Homo sapiens: one gene and its partners. The protein of the gene in region 2 binds, or shares a complex with, the protein of the main gene of each other region. Each region holds a gene or a part of one and is shown on either strand. Other genes may lie near its edges. A codon is read from its position in the direction of its gene.

The links. The genes of interacting proteins can lie anywhere in the genome.
Region 1: the proteins of CALM2 (region 2) and CKM are in contact, whole or in part, in a crystal structure (PDB 7BF2), measured with the Homo sapiens proteins. Residues at the interface, in NP_001734.1 of Homo sapiens: Glu85 (codon at 2,755), Ile86 (codon at 2,752), Ala89 (codon at 2,743), Val92 (codon at 2,734), Phe93 (codon at 2,731), Met110 (codon at 2,253), Asn112 (codon at 2,247), Leu113 (codon at 2,244), Gly114 (codon at 2,241), Glu115 (codon at 2,238), Leu117 (codon at 2,232), Met125 (codon at 2,208), Glu128 (codon at 2,199), Ala129 (codon at 2,196), Phe142 (codon at 1,239), Met145 (codon at 1,230), Met146 (codon at 1,227); in NP_001815.2 of Homo sapiens: Pro306 (codon at 5,364), Phe308 (codon at 5,370), Glu310 (codon at 5,376), Ile311 (codon at 5,379), Leu312 (codon at 5,382), Arg314 (codon at 5,388), Leu315 (codon at 5,391), Arg316 (codon at 5,394), Gln318 (codon at 5,400).
Region 3: the proteins of CALM2 (region 2) and TRPV5 are in contact, whole or in part, in an NMR structure (PDB 5OEO), measured with the Homo sapiens proteins. Residues at the interface, in NP_001734.1 of Homo sapiens: Lys22 (codon at 3,070), Asp23 (codon at 3,067), Ala89 (codon at 2,743), Val92 (codon at 2,734), Phe93 (codon at 2,731), Ile101 (codon at 2,280), Ala104 (codon at 2,271), Leu106 (codon at 2,265), Arg107 (codon at 2,262), Val109 (codon at 2,256), Leu113 (codon at 2,244), Gly114 (codon at 2,241), Glu115 (codon at 2,238), Leu117 (codon at 2,232), Asp119 (codon at 2,226), Glu120 (codon at 2,223), Glu121 (codon at 2,220), Asp123 (codon at 2,214), Glu124 (codon at 2,211), Met125 (codon at 2,208), Ile126 (codon at 2,205), Glu128 (codon at 2,199), Ala129 (codon at 2,196), Val137 (codon at 2,172), Phe142 (codon at 1,239), Met145 (codon at 1,230), Met146 (codon at 1,227); in NP_062815.3 of Homo sapiens: Thr675, Ala682, Pro684, Ser686, Ser687, Leu688, Ser689, Arg690, Thr691, Gln694, Ser696, Ser697, His698, Gly700, Trp701, Ile703, Leu704, Arg705, Asn707, Thr708, Leu718.

What each region holds. Positions count from the first base shown.
Region 1 is NC_000019.10:45,305,884-45,312,875, reverse strand, and holds the end of CKM (creatine kinase M-type), read left to right. Parts: intron 1-955; coding exon 956-1,127; intron 1,128-4,343; coding exon 4,344-4,467; intron 4,468-5,225; coding exon 5,226-5,415; intron 5,416-5,947; coding exon 5,948-6,126; 3' UTR 6,127-6,463; downstream 6,464-6,992. UniProt on the Homo sapiens protein: Reversibly catalyzes the transfer of phosphate between ATP and various phosphogens (e.g. creatine phosphate).
Region 2 is NC_000002.12:47,159,564-47,166,520, forward strand, and holds the end of CALM2 (calmodulin-2), read right to left. Parts: intron 3,100-6,957; coding exon 2,956-3,099; intron 2,830-2,955; coding exon 2,723-2,829; intron 2,296-2,722; coding exon 2,160-2,295; intron 1,242-2,159; coding exon 1,213-1,241; 3' UTR 521-1,212; downstream 1-520. UniProt on the Homo sapiens protein: Calmodulin acts as part of a calcium signal transduction pathway by mediating the control of a large number of enzymes, ion channels, aquaporins and other proteins through calcium-binding. Calcium-binding is required for the activation of calmodulin.
Region 3 is NC_000007.14:142,923,718-142,930,746, reverse strand, and holds part of TRPV5 (transient receptor potential cation channel subfamily V member 5), read left to right. Parts: intron 1-300; coding exon 301-398; intron 399-566; coding exon 567-689; intron 690-1,181; coding exon 1,182-1,319; intron 1,320-1,626; coding exon 1,627-1,725; intron 1,726-1,880; coding exon 1,881-2,056; intron 2,057-2,512; coding exon 2,513-2,659; intron 2,660-5,005; coding exon 5,006-5,218; intron 5,219-7,029. UniProt on the Homo sapiens protein: Constitutively active calcium selective cation channel thought to be involved in Ca(2+) reabsorption in kidney and intestine. Required for normal Ca(2+) reabsorption in the kidney distal convoluted tubules.

The DNA.
Region 1 (6,992 bases), on a different chromosome or scaffold from region 2:
TTCAAGTGTTTCTCGTGCCTCAGCCTCTTGAGTAGCTGGGATTACAGGCGTGTGCCACCATGGCCGACTAATTTTTGTATTTTTAGTGGAGACGGGGTTTCACCATGTTGGCCAGGCTGGTCTCAAAATCCTGACCTCAAGTGATCTGCCTGCCTTGGCCTCCCAAAGTGCTGGGATTATAGGCATGAGCCACTGCGCCCAGCCTACAATTTTTTTTTTTTTAAAGATTGGGGTCTTGGGCCAGGCGCCCAAGTGGAGAAACCCCGTCTCTACTAAAAATACAAAATTAGCCGGGCATGGTGGCGCATGCCTGTAATCCCAGGTACTTGAGAGGCTGAGGCAAGAGATTCGCTTGAACCCGGGAGACGGAGGTGGCAGTGAGCCAAGATCGCGCCATTGCGCTCCAGCCTGGGCAACAAGAGCAAAACTCCGTCTCATAAAAAAAAAAAAAAAAGATGGGGGTCTTGCTATGTTACCCAGACTGGACTCGAACTCCTGGGCTTAAGTGATCCTCCTGCCTCAGCCTCCCCAGTATCTGGACTACAGGCTCGTGCCAGTGCACCTGGCTACCATTCTACTTTATAATAATTTTTACTAATGGCCTCTCAAAGTCCTGAGACTTCAGCCATCTGTGTTGCCAGCCATTAGGAGCAGGCACCAGCACACTGTGGCCTGCAGGTGGATTGGATGTGAGGGTCCCTCAGGGGAAGAGGTGGGTCTGTTTTCCAGATTGAGCACATGGGGTGGCCATTCCTGGGGGCCTGGACAGATGGCAGGAACAGATTTTGGGGAGCCGTCACAAGTGTGGGTTTAGACACAGGGTTCAGGTGCCTTTAGGACATCCAGGGGGCCAAGGCCCAGGCCCGTTAGGAGCAGCAGCAGGGGAAACCCTGGGCCTCCACACCCTGGTTGAGGTGGGACAGGCTGCTGACCACTCCCTCGTGTGTCCCCATAGCTCTCAACAGCCTGACGGGCGAGTTCAAAGGGAAGTACTACCCTCTGAAGAGCATGACGGAGAAGGAGCAGCAGCAGCTCATCGATGACCACTTCCTGTTCGACAAGCCCGTGTCCCCGCTGCTGCTGGCCTCAGGCATGGCCCGCGACTGGCCCGACGCCCGTGGCATCTGGTGAGGCCCCTCCCCGCCCCCTGGCTTCCTCTTCCCCCAGCCTCCTCCAGTCCTGCAACGGCCCTCCTCACTCCTCCACCAAAACCAAGGCCATATACGTAATTATGATCTTCTAAATGCCACGGAAAATGATCTTGCCCTCCGCCCCTGCCCATCCTGTGGTCTGTGTGTCAGATTTTGGGATATCTGGACCGGAGAAGTGGTAGTTAAAAACTTAAGACTTGGCGGGGCACGGTGGCTCATGCCTGTAATCCCTGCACTTTGCGAGGCCAAGGCGGGGGGATCACTTGAGGTCAGGAGTTTGAGACCAGCCTGGCCAACACGGTGTCTACTAAAAATGACAAAAATTTAGCTGGGCGTAGTGGCAGGCGCCTGTAGTCCCAGCTACTTGGGAAGATGATGCAGGAGAATCGCTTGAACCCAGGTGGCGGAGGTTGCAGTGAGCCGAGATCGTGCCACTGCACTCCAGCCTGGGCGACAGAGCCAGACTGTCTCAAAAAAAAACAAACAAAAAAGAAAGAACTTAGACTTGGCCGGGCACAGTGGCTCACACCTGTAATCCCAGCACTTTGGGAGGCTGCAGCAGGAGGGTCGCTTGTGCCCAGGAGTTCTAGACCAGCCTGGGCAACATAGGGAGACCACGTCGCTACAAAAATTAAAAAAAAAAAAAGCCAGGCGCGGTGGCTCACGCCTGTAATCCCAGCACTTTGGGAGGCCAAGGTGGGCGGATCACGAGGTCAGGAGATTGACACCATCCTGGCTAACACGGTGAAACCCCGTCTCTACTAAAACTACAAAAAAAAAAAAAAAATTAGCCCGGCGTCGTGGCAGGCGCCTGTAGTCCCAGCTACTTGGGAGGCTGAGGCAGGAGAATGGCCTGAACCCAAGAGGCGGAGCTTGCAGTGAGCTGAGATCGTGCCACTGCACTCCAGCCTGGGCGACAGGAGACTCCGTCTCAAAAAAAAAAAAAAAAAAAAAAAAAAAAAAAAGCCAGGCGTGATGGCGTATACCTGTGGTCCCAGCTACTCGAGAGGCTGAGGATCAGCTGGGCCCAGAGGATTGAGGTTACTGTGAATCATGACCGAGGTACTGCACTCCAGCTACCTGTCTCAAAAATAAGAACTCAGACTTGAACCGTACTCCCTAGGTTCAAATCCCAGCTCTACCATTTACTAACTTTACTAGCTTTGTGACCTTGGGCAACTTATTTTATTTTTCTCTACCCCAGTTTCCTAGCTATAGGATAGGGATCACAATAATTTGTAGTTTCTGGTGTTCTTGTGAGGATTAAATGAGTTAATTTATGTAAAGTATTAAAAGCAGTGCCTGGGCCAGGCGCGGTGGCTCACGCCTGTAATCCCAGCACTTTGGGAGGCCAAGGCGGGCGGATCACGAGGTCAGGAGATCGAGACCATCCTGGCTAACATGGTGAAACCCCGTCTCTACTAAAAATACAAAAAATTAGCTGGGCTTGGTGGCAGGCGCCTGTAGTCCTACTTACTCGTGAGGCTGAGGCAGGAGAATGGCGTGAACCCGGGAGGCGGAGCTTGAAGTGAGCCAAGATCGCATCACTGCACTCCAGCCTGGGCGACAGACCAAGACTCTGTCTCAAAAAAAAAAAAAAAAAAAAAAGCAGTGCCTGGTATACACTAAGTGTTCAGTACATCTTGGTTATTCGTCTTATCTTTATTATAAAGTATTATTGCTAGACTTGTTTTGACTCTTTGAATCCCTGATTCAGATAGTCAAAGATTTAGAGAACCTAGGTTTCAATCGATGAAGGGAGCCTGGGTGCTAAGATATACAGATGGGATGATTCTAAGATTTCAAGATTTTAAATATTTTTAGGTTTTAAGATTCCACTCATTTATTTATTTATTTATTTTGAGATGGACTCTCACTCTGAGGCCCAGGCTGGAGTGCAGTGGGTTGATCTCGACTCACTGAAACCTCCATCTCCCGGGTTCAAACGATCCTCTCACCCTCCGCCTCCTTAGTAGCTAGGACGACAGGCATGTGCCACTGTGCCCAGCTAGTTTTCGTATTTTTGGTAGAGACAGCGTTCTGCCATGTTGCTCAGGCTGGTCTCGAACTCTTCACCTTAAGTGATCCGCCCACCTCAGCCTCCCAAAGTGCTGGGATTACAAGCGTGAGCCACCATGCCTGCCCTCAGGTTTTTTTTTTTTTTTTTTTGAGACAGGGTCTTGCTCTGTTGCCCAGGCTGGAGTGCAGTGGTGGGATCATAGCTCGCTGCAGCCTGGACCTTCCAAGGTCAAGTGATCCTCCCGCCTCAGCCTCCCCAGTGGCTTGGACTACAGGCATGTGTCCCACCATGCCTGCTAATTTTTTAAATTTTGTAGATATGTGGGTCTTGCCATGTTGCCCAGGGTAGTCTTGAACTCCTGGGCTCAAGCAATCCTCCGGCCTTGGCCTCCCAAAGTGCTGGGATTACAGGCATGAGCCACCACACCCGGCCATTTCCGGATCTTAATATTTTATGTTCTTTTTTTTTTTTTTTTTTGAGATGGAGTCTCGCTCTGTTGCCCAGGCTGGAGTGCAGTGGCGCGATCTCGACTCACTGCAAGCTCCACCTCCCGGGTTCTCGCCATTCTCTTGCCTCAGCCTCCTGAGTAGCTGGGACTACAGATGCCCGCCACCATGCCCAGATTTTTTTTTGTATTTTTTAGTAGAGACAGGGTTTCGACGTGTTAGCCAGGATGGTGTCGATCTCCTGACCTTGTGATCCGCCCGCCTCGGCCTCCCAAAGTGCTGGGATTACAGGCGTGAGCCACCGCACCCAGCCTTAATATTTTATGTTCTAAGATCCTGCTTCTGAGATGCTAGGATTGGGAGCTAACACACTACGATGGGAAGATTTTCTGGTCCTGAAACCAGATGTAGGATTACCAAGTGTTATCAGTTCTGATCCCAAGCTTCTGTTTGTCAAACATCCTGAGATCCCAAGGATCTATAATAATACTGTTCAAAGACTTAAGTCCCTAAAAGTCCTTGATCCCAGGATTCAGCGTTTTGCAGATCCTGTGACATTAGAGTCTACAGGTTTAAGCTTCTGCGTTTTGAGGAGGCAGATGCCACCCACCTCCCACCCCTCAGGCCCTCTTCCCCCATCGGTGGGCAGATGTTTTGGGGGAGGGCTGGGAATGGGGTTCCCACGGGGCTGACACCTTGGCCTCTTGCTGCGGCACCTTACTCTAGGCACAATGACAACAAGAGCTTCCTGGTGTGGGTGAACGAGGAGGATCACCTCCGGGTCATCTCCATGGAGAAGGGGGGCAACATGAAGGAGGTTTTCCGCCGCTTCTGCGTAGGGCTGCAGAAGGTGGGTGTCTGCCCTTAGCTGCTGACTTCTGACTCCACCTTGAACGCCCCACCTGCTTTCCGAGGCCCCGCCCCTTCCCCTATACTAAGCCCTGCCCCACCCATTTTCCAGGGCCCTGCCCCCCGGACCTGGCTCCACCCCATGCCAAACCCCGCCCCCCAAAACTAGCCCCACCCGCTTTTCAGGGCCCCGCCCCTGGACCCAGCTCCACCCTATGCCCAAGCCCCGCCCGTAAGGATCCGCCTTCAGGCCGGGAGCGGTGGCTCACGCCTGTAATCCCAGCACTTTGGGAGGCTGAGGAGGGTCAGGAGTTCAAGACCAGCCTGGCCAACATGGTGAAACCCCGTCTCTATACTAAAAAATTAATAAATAAATAAATTATCCAGGCGTAGTGGCGCGCGCCTGTAGTCCCAGCTACTCGGGAGGCTGAGGCAGGAGAATCGCTTGAACCTGGGAGGCAGAGGTTGCAGTGAGACGAGATCACGCCATTGCACTCCAGCCTGGGTGACACAGAGAGACTCTGGAAAAAAAAAAAAAAAAAACCCGCCTTCAAAGCGTTCTTAGTCCCCGCCCCTCAAAATCCTGCCTTGGTCCCCATTGTCTAGCCAGCACCCTCGGAATCTCCTACCTCCCTGTTCCCCTCAGAATCCCACCTCCACCACGTTCCCACGCCCTGTCCCTCCGGACCCTGTCCATGTTGCGGGTGCATTTGGGGGTGCCTGCCGGCGCTGACCCCTGGTCCTCTCTCTGAACCTCAGATTGAGGAGATCTTTAAGAAAGCTGGCCACCCCTTCATGTGGAACCAGCACCTGGGCTACGTGCTCACCTGCCCATCCAACCTGGGCACTGGGCTGCGTGGAGGCGTGCATGTGAAGCTGGCGCACCTGAGCAAGCACCCCAAGTTCGAGGAGATCCTCACCCGCCTGCGTCTGCAGAAGAGGGGTACAGGTACGGCTCCCACATCCTTTGCACCACGACGGAGGGGGAGCGAGGGCCCTTTGCAGGGATGCAAGGAGAGGTGCGACATCCCTGCGAGTTCTGGGGATCCGGCAAGGGCTGACCCTCTGTGAGCTTGCATTTCTTCCTCTGTAAAATGGGTGTCAATATGCCTATGTGATAGGAGTCAATGTGGGATTTTCATGATTATATAATATGCATTGCACATGCCCTTGGACCTCCCTCGGGGCCTCAGTTTCCCCATTTATAAAGCGAGGAGTGGTCAGGATTCGACCCTAGGCCGCCTGGCTCCAGAACCCACTCTCTTACCCACTATACTATGTTTGATAACTGAGTGGCGTGGTACCCCATCTGAAGTCAGAGACTCGTGAGCTCACGAATGAACAGGCATTACCTGTGTGCAGGTAACCTGTTACACAGTAGGCACTCACTACATGCGGCTGTTGCATTTGGCACGGGGGCCACGTCCCAGCCCCTCTGCACCTTCGCTGCCTCTTCACGCCCCTGTCCCTTGCTCCCACAGGTGGCGTGGACACAGCTGCCGTGGGCTCAGTATTTGACGTGTCCAACGCTGATCGGCTGGGCTCGTCCGAAGTAGAACAGGTGCAGCTGGTGGTGGATGGTGTGAAGCTCATGGTGGAAATGGAGAAGAAGTTGGAGAAAGGCCAGTCCATTGACGACATGATCCCCGCCCAGAAGTAGGCGCCTGCCCACCTGCCACCGACTGCTGGAACCCAGCCAGTGGGAGGGCCTGGCCCACCAGAGTCCTGCTCCCTCACTCCTCGCCCCGCCCCCTGTCCCAGAGTCCCACCTGGGGGCTCTCTCCACCCTTCTCAGAGTTCCAGTTTCAACCAGAGTTCCAACCAATGGGCTCCATCCTCTGGATTCTGGCCAATGAAATATCTCCCTGGCAGGGTCCTCTTCTTTTCCCAGAGCTCCACCCCAACCAGGAGCTCTAGTTAATGGAGAGCTCCCAGCACACTCGGAGCTTGTGCTTTGTCTCCACGCAAAGCGATAAATAAAAGCATTGGTGGCCTTAGCTTTGTGCGATAGTTATTGAGGGAGGACGTGCAATTGGCCACTGTGTGGTCTCAGAGTGGTTTGTCCTGTCTAGGCATGTACTAAACATGTCTTATCCCGGGTCTAAAATGAGGCAAAGTTAGGTCACAGAATCTAGTCCAAAAATTAGAAGGCTCTATGGGGAATCTGAGACCCAGAGAGACACTGAGCCCAGTGTCACTCACCCAAAGCATGGGCCCTTTCCAACTATGGCTTTGAATTAGTCATGCTCAGATCTCAAACACGAGGTCCACGCTGGGGAGGAATGCAGCCAAACGAAATGTCTGAAACTTGAATTTAGCCCAACGGTCTCCAGTTTTGAGACCTCCCATGCAGCTCGTCACATCTACCTATATTCTGCTTCTCAGTGGCCTCCTTCTGTCCCGTCTGACTTCATCCCTCTGTAGCTGCTGCCAGTCCCTTACTTTCTCAAGAACCTGCCATGGCTCCCCATTTCTCCTAGAAAGCTTTTCTGTTATTTTGCAACTCAAGGCCACACTGAAATGCAT
Region 2 (6,957 bases):
GACAAATGCCAAAGTTGAAAACTATAAAGGTAGGAAACAGTAAATACCTACTTTATGCCAATTCCCATACTAGGTACACTTAAGTTTTTGAGTCTTTCATTGGGGCCTTTTGAAGTTGTCAAATACAATCTGGATAAAGAAACAAAACAAAAAACTTGCCCCTCTTTTCCCATGACTGCCACCATCTTGTTCTGTGGGCAGAGGCAACTCACAGGTATCCTGGATCTAACACAGTAGCACAGTACGACACACATGGTGGTGGAGGAATGTTGTGGGCACGCATGATGGTGGCCCCCAAAAGGTGACTACACTAAGCCAGCCCCCATAGATCCCCATCTTTTCGGCCTTCCTCTTCAATCTCTCCTTAGTTACACCCCTTATTTTGTTCCTCTTATTTTCTGTGCTTCTCTCCCTCTTTTCTCACTTTTCCAATCCTTTTCTCCTTCCTTTCCCACCTTCACTATTTCTGCCACCCATCTCCATATGCTTCCCCACACGAGAAAAAATTATCTAGACTATACCAAGCAGAAACCAATGCCATATTTTATTTTCAAAATTATTAGACTTCAACAGTTAAATGACTCAGATGCAGAGCAACCATTGGGTAAATTGTAATTTTTTTATTGGAAAACAAATATACAACTTGGAATGGATTTTGAGGCAAATTGTGCCATAAGCAGATTTTAAGTGGCTAAACAAAGTTTAAAAAGCAAGTAACAATAAAAGAAAATGTTTCTGGTACAGGACCAGCAGTACAAAAAAATAGTGTACGAGTACCTGGATAATACACCCGTTTTGCAATAGTGCAACTTTTAAGTACATATTGTTGACTGTCCATAGTCCACGCAGAGTTACAACTCCACACTTCAACAACAACATGCTGACAGTTCCTAAAGAAAACTACTTTAAAAAAGGCATAACCCAGATGTTCCCTCATTTGACCAACTCCATCTAAGTTTAGATGTGCAGAAGGGCTTAGATATATCCAGAGTAAGCCACATGCAACATGTTACTTGATCAATTTTCTAAAATAAGGTTTTAGGACAATGACAGTAAGATAAGGGAAGAAAACATGGAGGAATGAAGTCCTAATTACTATACATGCATATTTTTTTGACAGTAGGGAGAAACCTTTTACAGATAAGTTACAAACAAAGAAAAGGCAAATAAACAATTTTGTACAAGAAATTTAACACATTCTGTACAAGGTCTTCACTTTGCTGTCATCATTTGTACAAACTCTGAAAAAGAAGAAGTACACAAAAAATGAGTCAATAGCAAAAGACCAAAAAAAAAAAAAAAAAAAAAAAATCACATTTACTCAATTACTGAGTACTCTTTCCATTCCTCTCTTTCCTCAGAATTACCATTAAGTACAGAGGGAAGCTAGTTTATTGCCCAGGCTGGAACTTCATTAACCATAACTATTCAGGTTTATTAGTAAGAGCCAAATTAACGCTTTAGATAGGCCAATATAAAAAAGAGCATTCTTGGCTCTTAGTTTAGACTTGAATTTTAAGTCTGCTGGATTACAAGACAATATTGTAAATTCAATGCTATGGGCTAGGTTTAATTTTTATAACATTACATTTTATGCTCTTTTCTAAGTTAAGTAGTTACATCATGAAAAAAATACAGAGTTTTACTCAAAATCCTTCAGTTTCATATGCCTTGCTTCCTGATATGGCCATCTTAAAAGTTAGTAGATACGATACTTTTGAAGCACATGTAAACTTCAGTTTCAGACTAAAGCCAATTAAAGAAAAAAGACAATACAGTGCGGGGAAAGAAAGTCACATTAATTTCATTTTAGGAAACTTGGAATAAGTTTGCTTTCCACATTGTTCCACAATCACACAAACACTGAACAGTGCTTCTCAAACTTTATACATGAATCACCCAAGAATCCTATTAAAATGCTGATTCCAGGTGTAGGGATAGAACCTGATAGTAAATATTTCTAAATTAAGTTCTCAAGTCAGAGCAATGTTACCTAGTCTGCAGACAACACTCTGAATTTTAAGAAGGTTAAATGTAAGTAACTGTTTTAGCAACCTAATTTCAGGGGAAGGGTCACTAATTTCGATCAGTTCCCTAACAAAGAGCCTCTTATCTTAAAAATCAAAGTGAAGAATGAGGCGTGAGACTGAAACATTTACCTTCATAGTTTACTTGACCATCACCATCAATATCTGCTTCCCTGATCATTTCATCAACTTCTTCATCTGTTAACTTCTCTCCAAGGTTTGTCATCACATGGCGAAGTTCTGCAGCACTAATATAGCCATTGCCATCCTAGCAAAAAATTTAGTATAGTTTCTGAGTCAAATTACAGACTTGAGAGTTGGAATGGAAATTTATTAAGTTTACTACTAAATTTCACATTGGGGGAAAAACATACTTTAGAAATGCATACAAATCTACACAGTTGACCTACAAATGTCATTAAGAGCCAAGCAAAATGTCCTACATTGAAATCATTATTTCCTAGTCCCAAAGTCAAGTGACACCTCCTTTGACAAGATGAACGCAATACATATATTAGAAAGTCTATACTGAATTCTTAAAAAGCTTTTGCTTGGTAATTAAAATATGTTGGTAAATCATCAAAAAAAAAAAAAAAAAAAAAAAAAAAAACAACCAAAAAAACACAAGTCTTCATAATGAGTCCTGGTATCTTCATTTCATCCTCAAAATTTAACATATCCAGTCCTTGACGTACCTTATCAAACACACGGAATGCTTCTCTAATTTCTTCTTCACTGTCTGTGTCTTTCATTTTTCTTGCCATCATTGTCAGAAATTCAGGGAAGTCAATTGTGCCATTACCTGAAATGGTTTAGTGGAAACATCAAAGCTTTAGTGGAAACATATAAGCAAACAGCAAAGGTTTAGTGGAAACATCTAAGTATCACTTCTTCAACCCCTCCCAGCCCCACAAAATTGAAGACTTACCATCAGCATCTACTTCATTAATCATGTCCTGTAACTCTGCTTCTGTGGGATTCTGCCCAAGAGATCTCATTACAGTTCCCAATTCCTTTGTTGTTATAGTTCCATCACCATCTTTGTCAAATAGTGAAAAAGCTTCTTTGAATTCTGTTTGAAAGAAAGACCACAATCCAAATACACAGATTAATAATAAAATGTAACCTAAATGAAACGTATTAACTCTTAAAGCCTACTCAGTGGTGGGATCGTGCCAGTGAACAGCCACTGCACTTCAGCCTGGCCAAACTGTAAGACCCCACGTCTCAGAAAAACCCAAAAACTTTTAACGGAAAAATACCAATGGAGGTAGCAATTGAAATGTGACTTTGACTCCTAAAGATTAACCAATCTTTATGATACCTTATGATAATATTTCAAATATATCTTTGACCAATCATACCACTGTACTTTCATGCTGACCTAAGTAAAATTATCCTAGGTTTACAGAGGAAAAGAACCAAATCCCCAAATGACTGGCTCCTCTGTCACTGAAGCTGCTCTGTGGAACATAATTCAAAATTACAGACCTAACCTACACTCACAAAACAAAAATAAGACTACTGGTACCCAAATACGTATTTCTACAGAGTAATTAAACTGTTTCTGTATACTGTGTTTAGAGTTAGCCACTATGTCTAAATCAATCACCTACTAAATTAAAACAGGCTACTTTCCCTTTCTAGTAAGGCAGGAGAAGGGACTATATAAAGAGTCTATAACAATGGGCTGATCAAGATATAAATGTCCAGTTTTAGCTAAATGCATGTCACTGAGAACAAAGATCATTTTGAGCTTTCTTTGGAATATTAAAACCCCAACCTTATATAGTGAAACTGATTATTCCTCAACATCTTGTTGTGATAGTATGTTCCTTCCTGCTGTTGTTTTTTTTTTTGAGATGGACTTTCGCTCTTGTTGTCCAGGCTGGAGTGCAATGGTGCAATCTCAGCCCACCGCAACCTCCTCCTCCCAGGATCAAGCAATTCTCCTGCCTCAGCCTCCCGAGTAGCTGGAATTACAGGCATGCACCACCACGCCCAGCTAATTTTCTATTTTTAGTAGAGATGGGGTTTCTCCACGTTGGTCAGGCTGGCCTCGAACTCCCAACCTCAGGTGATCCGCCTGTCTCTGCCTCCCAAAGTGCTGGGATTACAGGGCATGAGCCACTGTGCCCGGCTATATGTTCCTTCTAATACATCACTAGATTACATGGAAACCTCCTGCTGGTGCAACACTCCAGACTACCTGGCTTCATTCACCATTTACAGATAAACTAAAACAAGCCAGGTGCAGTGGCTCACACCTGTAATCCTAGCACTTTGGGAGGCCAAGGTGGGCAGACTGCCTGAGCTCAGGGTGAGTTCCAGACCAGCCTGAACAACAGGGTGAAACCCCGTCTCAGGCCGGGCGCGGTGGCTCAAGCCTGTAATCCCAGCACTTTGGGAGGCTGAGGCGGGTGGATCATGAGGTCAGGAGATCGAGACCATCCTGGCTAACACGGTGAAACCCCATCTCTACTAAAAATACAAAAAAATTAGCCGGGCGTGGTGGCGGGCGCCTATAGTCCCAGCTACTCGGGAGGCTGAGGCAGGAGAATGGCGTGAACCTGGGAGGCAGAGCTTGCAGTGAGCTGATATTGCGCCACTGCACTCCAGCCTGGGCGACAGAGCGAGACTCCGTCTCAAAAAAAAAAAAAAAGAAGAAAAAGAAAAGAAACCCCGTCTCTACTAAAACACACACACACACAAGCTGGGTGTGGCGGCGTGTGCCTGTAGTCCCCCGTCTCTACTAAAACACACACACACACACACACACACACACACACACACACACGCTGGGTGTGGCAGCGTGGGCCTGTAGTCCCCCGTCTCTATTAAAACACAAACACACACACAAGCTGGGTGTGGCGGCGTGCGCCTGTAGTCCCAGCTACTGGGGAGGCTGCAGCAGCAGAACTGCTTGAACCCGAGAGGCGGAGGTTGCAGTGAGCCGAGATCACACCACTGCACTCCAGCTTGGGCAACAGAGTGAGACTTGTCTCAAAAAAAAAAAAAGAAAGAAAGAAACTAAAACAGACTAACTTTGATACTGCAAAGTTATACCAATCAGTAAATAATAAAGCTAGTATTTTCCAAGTAAGTCATTTCCCAGAAAATATTAGACCCTATCAGCAAATGAATACAAAAAGTTTCCAAGTTCATTGGGCCATTAAGCTTTCCCAACATAGCCATACATTTGAAAATTTATGTGACACATGTGTAAGAAATGGTGTACCTTCTTTACGGTCCAAGGCCAATTTATTCCCTGCCTGCTTATCCCTAACTCCAATTCGCGTACACCTTCCAGTTTCATTCCGTATTACCTCTTCCCTGGACTCAACTATTCTTCCACTAATTTGCCCATTACCACATAAATATCTTCACATCGCTTAGCCTAAAACTAAATTGAAACCTTAGTTATATTTTAAATGCTTGCCCTTATCCCTCCCCAAATTTTGGAAGGCACTACTACTCATACCAATTTCCTCTCTCCAAACAATCCACTATTTTAAAATGACATCCAGCTCCAACTCATCACCTGAAAATGCTGAGTTTACCAATGACTACTAGTCAGTCACCCAATCCATCAAGCATGCTTCAATGTGAAGCCATATGGCATAGAAACTAAAATGAGACTTTGTAACTTGACTACTGGGTTAGAATTTCCTAGCTCTGTTTCTTCTTCTGGCAATGCAATATGGACAAGCTACTAAACCTTTTCTGCCTCAGCTTCCTCATTTCTGTGAAATGACATAAATGTGCCCAGTAAGTGGGGTGACACAGTATACCATGCCCACAAGGGGTATTCACCTGGTCACCCCCCATAAAAAAATTAGTATGTGTCAAACACTTAGAACTATGTCCAACAAATACATACTTAATAAATGTCAAGATAAAGACTATCTCATTTTTTTGCAGCATCCAAAACTGCATGGAAAAACTCTCAAAATTTTTCTTGGCCTTCGTAACAGTACTTTGATTTTCCTCCTACCATATACTGCCAAAGGCTCTTACTCCTGTCTCTTATGTCTAGATGTGACCAATTTTATCCTTTTTTTCCACTCCTTGGCCACTTCATCTATACCCACTTACAACGAAGATATCTTTAGTCTACCCATCTCGCTCAATAAATGTCTTTATTTCTGGCTGTCTACAGGATATAGCTCCCCTGGCTGATGACAAGCAAAACATATGAAAATGAATTCTATACTCCCAGGCAACCCTAAAGGTACTAGCAAAAGCCCAAGAGCCACTTTTAACTCTTTCAGTCTGAAATCTGTCAACAGGTCTCGAATTCTATCATTTAAATACTGCCTGATTTTTCCTCCATCTCTACAACCAGTATTTTGGTTCAAGGCTCCATCGTCCTTTGCCAGGGCTATTACAATTGCCTCCTAACTGCATTCTTTCTTATTTAAATATTACTGGTTTATAGAGGAACTCATCTAATACCAATCAGAAGGTTCATACCACACTAATTGATTTTATGAAGATAGTATACAGTGCTAACCTAGATCAACCTAATGACAAAAATAGATCAGGGAGTCTCCACCTACAAATAGCACAATTGATAAAGACATTTCAATTTTACTGTTTTTAAACAGAATGTAGAAATATCTAGAAATACATATATTGGAGTTCAGACACATTGCACCTTTCACCTAATTTAGGTTACAAGAAAATTAAAGGACTTTGAGGTATTTGTTTATATTACATTCTCTGCTATGGGTATCTTTTAACACCACCATTAGGTGCATAAATTCCCAATGTTTAATTAGCAGTAATCACCTTTCTATTACATGATTTAACAAAAAGCTAAATACTGGAAGATGCATAGTGTAAGACTATGTATAACTTTCGAGAAATTTAAAAATCTAATAACACTTAAAATGTTTGCTAGAATAAGTAAAATGCAGAAAATAAAACC
Region 3 (7,029 bases), on a different chromosome or scaffold from region 2:
CTCTCAGACCACTCTTTCCAGACTACAGGTTCTCTTCCTATTAACTCTTCCCCTCCAGCAGAGCTTCAAGGGCCATCCTCACAGGAGAATCACCATGATGTGAATTGCAAGGAAGGCCCTGGGGCTGACCCTTGCCCAAGTCCACCCTCGGTCATTCGAGTCCAGTAGGCACTTCTTTCCAATTTGTCACTGCACGCTGTGTGAGTCACGTTGGTCTTAAAGAATGTCTTAGATCCCCTTTGCTCTTGGCCTCATTCTGCTATGACTGTCTCTTCCAAACTCACGTTCACCTTTCCCCAGGATTCTAGAGTCTCCACTGCTTCGAGCATCCAAGGAAAATGACCTGTCTGTTCTTAGGCAACTTCTACTGGACTGCACCTGTGACGTTCGACAAAGAGGTGGGATCTGGATTTAATGGGATGGAGGTGGGGGCAGAAGAACCTACTCCTCCTCCCCAAGACTTCGAGTTTGTGAAATAGGGCCTTGGAGGGTGTCTCTGGAGCCTGAGGCCCCTTCCTCAAGGGAATCTGAAAAGTGTCTAACATCTCTGTCTTACTCCAATCCAGGAGCCCTGGGGGAGACGGCGCTGCACATAGCAGCCCTCTATGACAACTTGGAGGCGGCCTTGGTGCTGATGGAGGCTGCCCCAGAGCTGGTCTTTGAGCCCACCACATGTGAGGCTTTTGCAGGTAAGGAGCCTACATGGTAATTCAAGGTGGAAACTTTGAGATGGAGGGTGTGCTGTTGTCTCTTAAAATTGGCCTCTGAAGGATGGGTTGGGGTGGGGTGATGGAGGGTCAGGAGGATGGGCTCCGTTGAGTTGGGAGAAATGCAAAGGTCCTGGTCTTGGCTTTTACCAATCTGTGGCTTCCTTCAGCATTTCCTTTCAAACCTCCCATAGTCCCTGTAGGACCTATCTCAATTTCTTTCTCTCATAGCAACATGAGAATGATTATATTCATAGCAATCCCCTGCTGGCTCCCAATAACTGAAGGGTAGGTCAATGAGCAGGGCAGCCTGAGGGATGAATTGCTCTTAGTCCCAGGCCACCCTGCCAAGCCCAGGGCAGAAGTCTAGCAAAGATCTATCAGGAACCTCCTGAGAGGGATGGTGGGGGATGCTGTGTCCCTGAGAGAACTGGGGACAGAGGGAGACCCTGATGATGGCTGTCTCTGGGCCAGGTCAGACTGCACTGCACATCGCTGTTGTGAACCAGAATGTGAACCTGGTGCGTGCCCTGCTCACCCGCAGGGCCAGTGTCTCTGCCAGAGCCACAGGCACTGCCTTCCGCCATAGTCCCCGCAACCTCATCTACTTTGGTGAGAGCAGGGTTGGGCTTGAAGGATGGTTGGCTGGAGAGGCGGGCAAGGCAGAGGGAGGCCAGGGCATGAGGGTCCTGCCTTCAGCTCCATCTGTTGGGCAGTTGAGAGGGGCAGCCCTTCTAGGGCTTAATTAAGCCAGAGGCCCATTCCCCTGATGGTTCCTTCCTCTGGTTCTGCTGGACGAGTGTCCCTCAGCCTAGAACTGAGATATGGGGGATGAGGAGGAGGCCCTTATTTGGGGGAGACTGCCCACCCCATCCTGCCATCCTGCGTTCTCCTGCCATGGATCTCTCTGTGTCCACAGGGGAGCACCCTTTGTCCTTTGCTGCCTGTGTGAACAGCGAGGAGATCGTGCGGCTGCTCATTGAGCATGGAGCTGACATCAGGGCCCAGGACTCCCTGGGTAAGAGCTGGGATGGGGAGGGGAGCTGGGATGCTGTGGGGAGCGAGGGACAGGGTAAGGAGTGGAGCTGGGACCTTTAGGAAGACCCCAGAGTGGGGATGGGGACATCAGGGACTTTAGGCCAGTGGCCACATGATACCCTGCGTCCTCCCCAGGAAACACAGTATTACACATCCTCATCCTCCAGCCCAACAAAACCTTTGCCTGCCAGATGTACAACCTGCTGCTGTCCTATGATGGACATGGGGACCACCTGCAGCCCCTGGACCTTGTGCCCAATCACCAGGGTCTCACCCCCTTCAAGCTGGCTGGAGTGGAGGGTAACACTGTGGTAAGAGACGCTCCCCATCCCTGAGGTGTCTTTCTAATGACCCTCAACCTATCCTGCTGGCCCTGGGAGAAATAGAGGTGAAGGGCCCACCTTTCTCTAAAATCCCTTTTCCCCAAACTCCCCAAAGGGATGGTGGTCCCTTGCTTCCTATTCCATCACTGAAATCTTCAGCTTCATGGTCCTTGACTCAAGAGGATTTGAGAACCTTACCTTAATGCATGTGCTGTGATAACCCAAAGCTCTAGCTTCCTTTGCCTATTTTCTTCTTTCTGCACTTTCTGGGGTTTTGGAGCAGGAAAGATGACAAAAAAGGGAAAGCTTGTAGATGCAGAGGTTTGCTGGTTCCCACTGTCTGTCTGTCTCAAGGGGTGGGCAACTGGCTCCATCCAATGGAGTTGTTCTCCTCGACCACCTTCTCACACGTTGGCCCCCTGACTCATCCTGGTGGTCTCTCAGATGTTCCAGCACCTGATGCAGAAGCGGAGGCACATCCAGTGGACGTATGGACCCCTGACCTCCATTCTCTACGACCTCACGGAGATCGACTCCTGGGGAGAGGAGCTGTCCTTCCTGGAGCTTGTGGTCTCCTCTGATAAACGAGAGGTATGGATGCCAAGGAGGATCAGGCCTGTCATGTGAGGGAATTTAGTGTTTGTGCAGAGTCTGTCCACTTACTAAGATCCTGGGCCTGAGACACTTCCCAGCCTTATAATAGGTGGAGATGAGAATAGTCTCCTGGGACATGGGGGAAAGTCCAATGCACACTCCTCTCCTGAATCCCCTGTCTCTCTGCTTAGCTCCAGTCCCTTCTGCCTACCTTTCGCCTTCTATCATTTCAGATGAGAAACTCCAAATAAGAGCTGTTTCCTCATATTCATTCATTGGTTCAGCATTGATATGGTTTGCATTTGTGTCCAAATGCAAAAATTTCATGTCAAATTGTAATCCACAGTGTTGGAGAAGGGGCCTGGTGGGAGGTGATTGGATCATGGGGACAGACTTCCCTCTTGATGTTCTCGTGATAGTGAGTTTTCACAAGATCCGGTTGTTTAAAAGTGTGTGGCACCTCCCCCTGCTCTCTCTTCCTCCTGCTCTCTCTTCCTCCTGCTCCGGCCATGTAGGATGTGCCTGCTTTCTTCTTGGCCTTTTGCCATGATTGTACGTTTCCTCAGGCCTCTCCAGAACCTGTACAGCCTGCAGAACCATGAGCCAATTAAACCTTTTTATTTATAAATTACCCTGTGCCAGGTAGTTCTTTATAGTAATATGAGAATGGACTAATACAAGCATATTGAACACCCGCTGTATGTCAGGCACTGCACAAGAAACAAACAGTACAGAAATAAATACAACACAGTTCCTGTTCATCAACTTCCTCAATTCTCAGTCCCTGTCCTGAATAATTGCAACAGAGCATGACATATGCCGTAATAGTTGTGTGTACCATGCATGCAGACAGCCACATTGAGGTAGAGTTAACTTGGCTTGGATAGACCAGAGAAGATGTCACAGAGGAAATGCTGGGGCTGGATCTTCAAGGAAGAATTGGGAGTCACAGGAAGATGAGAGAAAAAAAAGAGCTTTTTAGAGAGGGAGCAACGTATAGACCATTCAACAATGCTGGGTTGAGTGATGTGAGGGAAACGAAAATTTGTTGAAGACTGCAGTAGAGAGGAGAAAAGACTTCCAGGTTTCAGAACGTTCCATGAGAGTGCCAAGATGTAGTTTCTGTTTTGTATCTGCCACAGTGACAATTTCCCAGGAATCCTTATAGATCCAGAAAACATGAATGATTATTAATACTAACGAATAGAAGAAAAGTTGAGTGGCTAGTTTGTGAGATCTTCCTCAGAGAATATCCCTGGAAACAGATACACTTTGAGCAGGATTTCTTAGGTATTAAAAGCACAATCCCACTGTGTGGATTTCGCCACCACATATCCTTGGTCTTTGATTTAAGCTATTCTCAATATTCTCCAGCAGGTTTCATAAGTGTCTTGGGTCAGTTGCTTTTTTCCTCCATAAATCTTCCTTTCTAGCCCCCTTTCACATCCTTCACTACCTTCAGCTGCAGTTCAGAAGACCTAGACTCCTGATTTAGGACAAAAATAGAGGCTTTCTGGCTGGGGATCCTTCAGCTTCCTGCCCTACACTGCCGAGCATGTCTGGAAACTGCCCACTGTCTCTCTCCTCCCCTCCAGCTTCAGTAGAAAAGATATTCATGCTGTTAATGGCTAATCACTCTACTGTGCTTTGAATCTGTCTCTTTCTAATTTCTCAGATGCCTCCTCCCGTCCATCATCCCCTCTCCTGTGTATCTTTAACGTCTCACTGGCTGCTTATTTCAGAGCACCATCCCACCCTGCCACATCCTACTGCCTGTAACCTCCATTGCTTCTTTCCAGCCCAATAATACTTCTAGAGCAAATCTGACCACTTCCCTGCTTGAACTCCCCAGTTGCTTTCTGTTATATTTAGAAAAAACAAAAAATGCAAACTTCCTACCTTGGCATTTATGATGCATGATGACCTGGCCCTGTTCTTCCTCAGTCATTATCATTTCTGACTACCACTCCCAATAGATTCTCCCCTCTCCCCAACCACATCTCAACTGCAAATGGGCAATGGCTTCTCAGACCTTCCTGACCTGGCAACTGCTGTTAGCTTATGGTATGATCTTTCCTAACTCTCCCTTTACTCATCTAACTACTACTCATCCTTTAAATCCTCTTTGGTGCTATGGTGCCTTGTGTTTACTGCTATAGTCATTTACCTGTATCACTAGCACAAGGCCCAGCCATATGCAGGAAATATACTATTTGTCCGTCAAATAAGTGACTGATGAGCTGAGTGAGTGATGGTTGCTGCCCTGCCTCTTCTGGCCCCCAGTGGGATAAACAACATCCTTCTGTGTTGGTCACCCCAAGTTTCACTCTACTTCCATGCCAGGCTCGCCAAATTCTGGAACAGACCCCAGTGAAGGAGCTGGTGAGCTTCAAGTGGAACAAGTATGGCCGGCCGTACTTCTGCATCCTGGCTGCCTTGTACCTGCTCTACATGATCTGCTTTACTACGTGCTGCGTCTACCGCCCCCTTAAGTTTCGTGGTGGCAACCGCACTCATTCTCGAGACATCACCATCCTCCAGCAAAAACTACTACAGGTGATTCTCCTCAGAAGGGGATGAGAGAGAATTGCATCAAGGGGTGATGGTGCTGGAAACGAAGCCATGCTACTCAGGGACGATGCCACGCTCTGGGTTCCAGCAGGTGTAGGCTCCTAAACACCCAGGTAGAAATTAGACATGAGACCAGGAGGCCACAGATGGGGTTTAATGAGCACAAGAGCATTTGTCCAGGGAGCTGTGGATTTTCTCACACAAACTTTGAAAGAGTGCTTGGCATGAGTAAGCCTGTGCTTTTGTGAAATTTTTTGGTAATTTACAAAAAGTATCAGGGTTTTTTAGTGGGATGTTCAAGGTAAACTCTATTGCTCAAAAGGAGGAAAATTGTGCTCCAAGTCCATTTCTGAGTCCATTTTTGTTGTATTTGGGCAACACAGACAGCCCTGCTGGCCTGCACCCTCTTCTGTGTGCTGTCTATATGGGCCCATGGGAATAATGTGTCAGCTGTCTGACTGCCTGTCAGACACTCTGCAGAAGGATGTCTGGATTGGGTATCAGGCTGAAGTAAATACTCTCTGAGGCTCCATTTAGTGTTGTGGGCCTGCCATTCTGTGTTGTGGTGGCCAAGGGAAAACTAGGGTTAGGAAGAGGACTGATTCGAGGTACACAGTAAATATAGAAATCTGCTGTTGAAGAAAGTAAACCTCCTTTTTGTGCAACAGAAAGGGTAGACTCTAATGAGCACTTCTGAATATATATATTTAACAACTGTAGCTATATTTGAGGGGTTGACTCTTTGTGGATTACTAAAATTTTTGTCCTGGTGAGCTGAAAATACACAGAAGGTGATGTAGGTATGTAGCAGAAAGCAAAAGACCAGGAAAAAGAATTTTGCAAAGCAAGTGAGAACTGAGTGATTGGAGATTTATCTCAATGCAGGAGAGAGCAGCCATAGGTATAGCTCAGCCTGGACTAGGAAGCAGGGTAGTTTCAGTCGGAAAGAGAATATAAACTTTCTATAGCCAAGAAGCAAAAATCCTGAATTTGTTTAGACCAAAGACAGCGATATGCACAGAGAAAGAACAGGGCAAAGAGCCCAAATGAACCCTATGCTAGGTAGAGACACTCCATCTCTCCTGTTTTTAGAATTGCCTTTATATATATACATGTATATGTATATATATATATATATGTATATATATACATGTATATGTCTATATATATATATATGTATATATATACATGTATATGTGTGTATATATATATGTATATATATACATGTATATGTATATATATATATATGTATATATATACATGTATATGTATATATATATATATGTATATATATACAGTGTGTCATGTGTCCAGATACACTGCCTCTCACCAAGTAGGTCTTGCTGCCTGGGGAGGACAAGCCTGAATGTGTTAGAGACACTGGAAGCAGTTGTGCTGCATGCATCTCAGTCTGGCCGCAAAAGTTGTCCCTGGCATGGAGACATGAGGAAAATAAGGACAGTTAGGAGATGGCAAGTGGAGGGAGGAGTGATTAGAAATTGAGAAAACACAAACAAGGTGGGGATGACTGGACTTTTCCAATGCTCCTGGCCCTATTTCCTCAGATATGTCTTCTCCAACCTTCCTTTGTCTCAAATTTACTTGGAGATTTTCTGCATTTTGAAGGTAGACAGGACTCTGGGTTAAAAGGTGGGCAATGCTGAGCCACTGATAACCAAAACTCTCCTTCCTGTGTGTCTCTTTCTCTTTGGGACAGGGCTAGTTATGTACAATCACATTTCTTTGATCCAGATAGTCTGTATGTAAAAGACCGCCTCCTTTGCTTCAGGACTCAG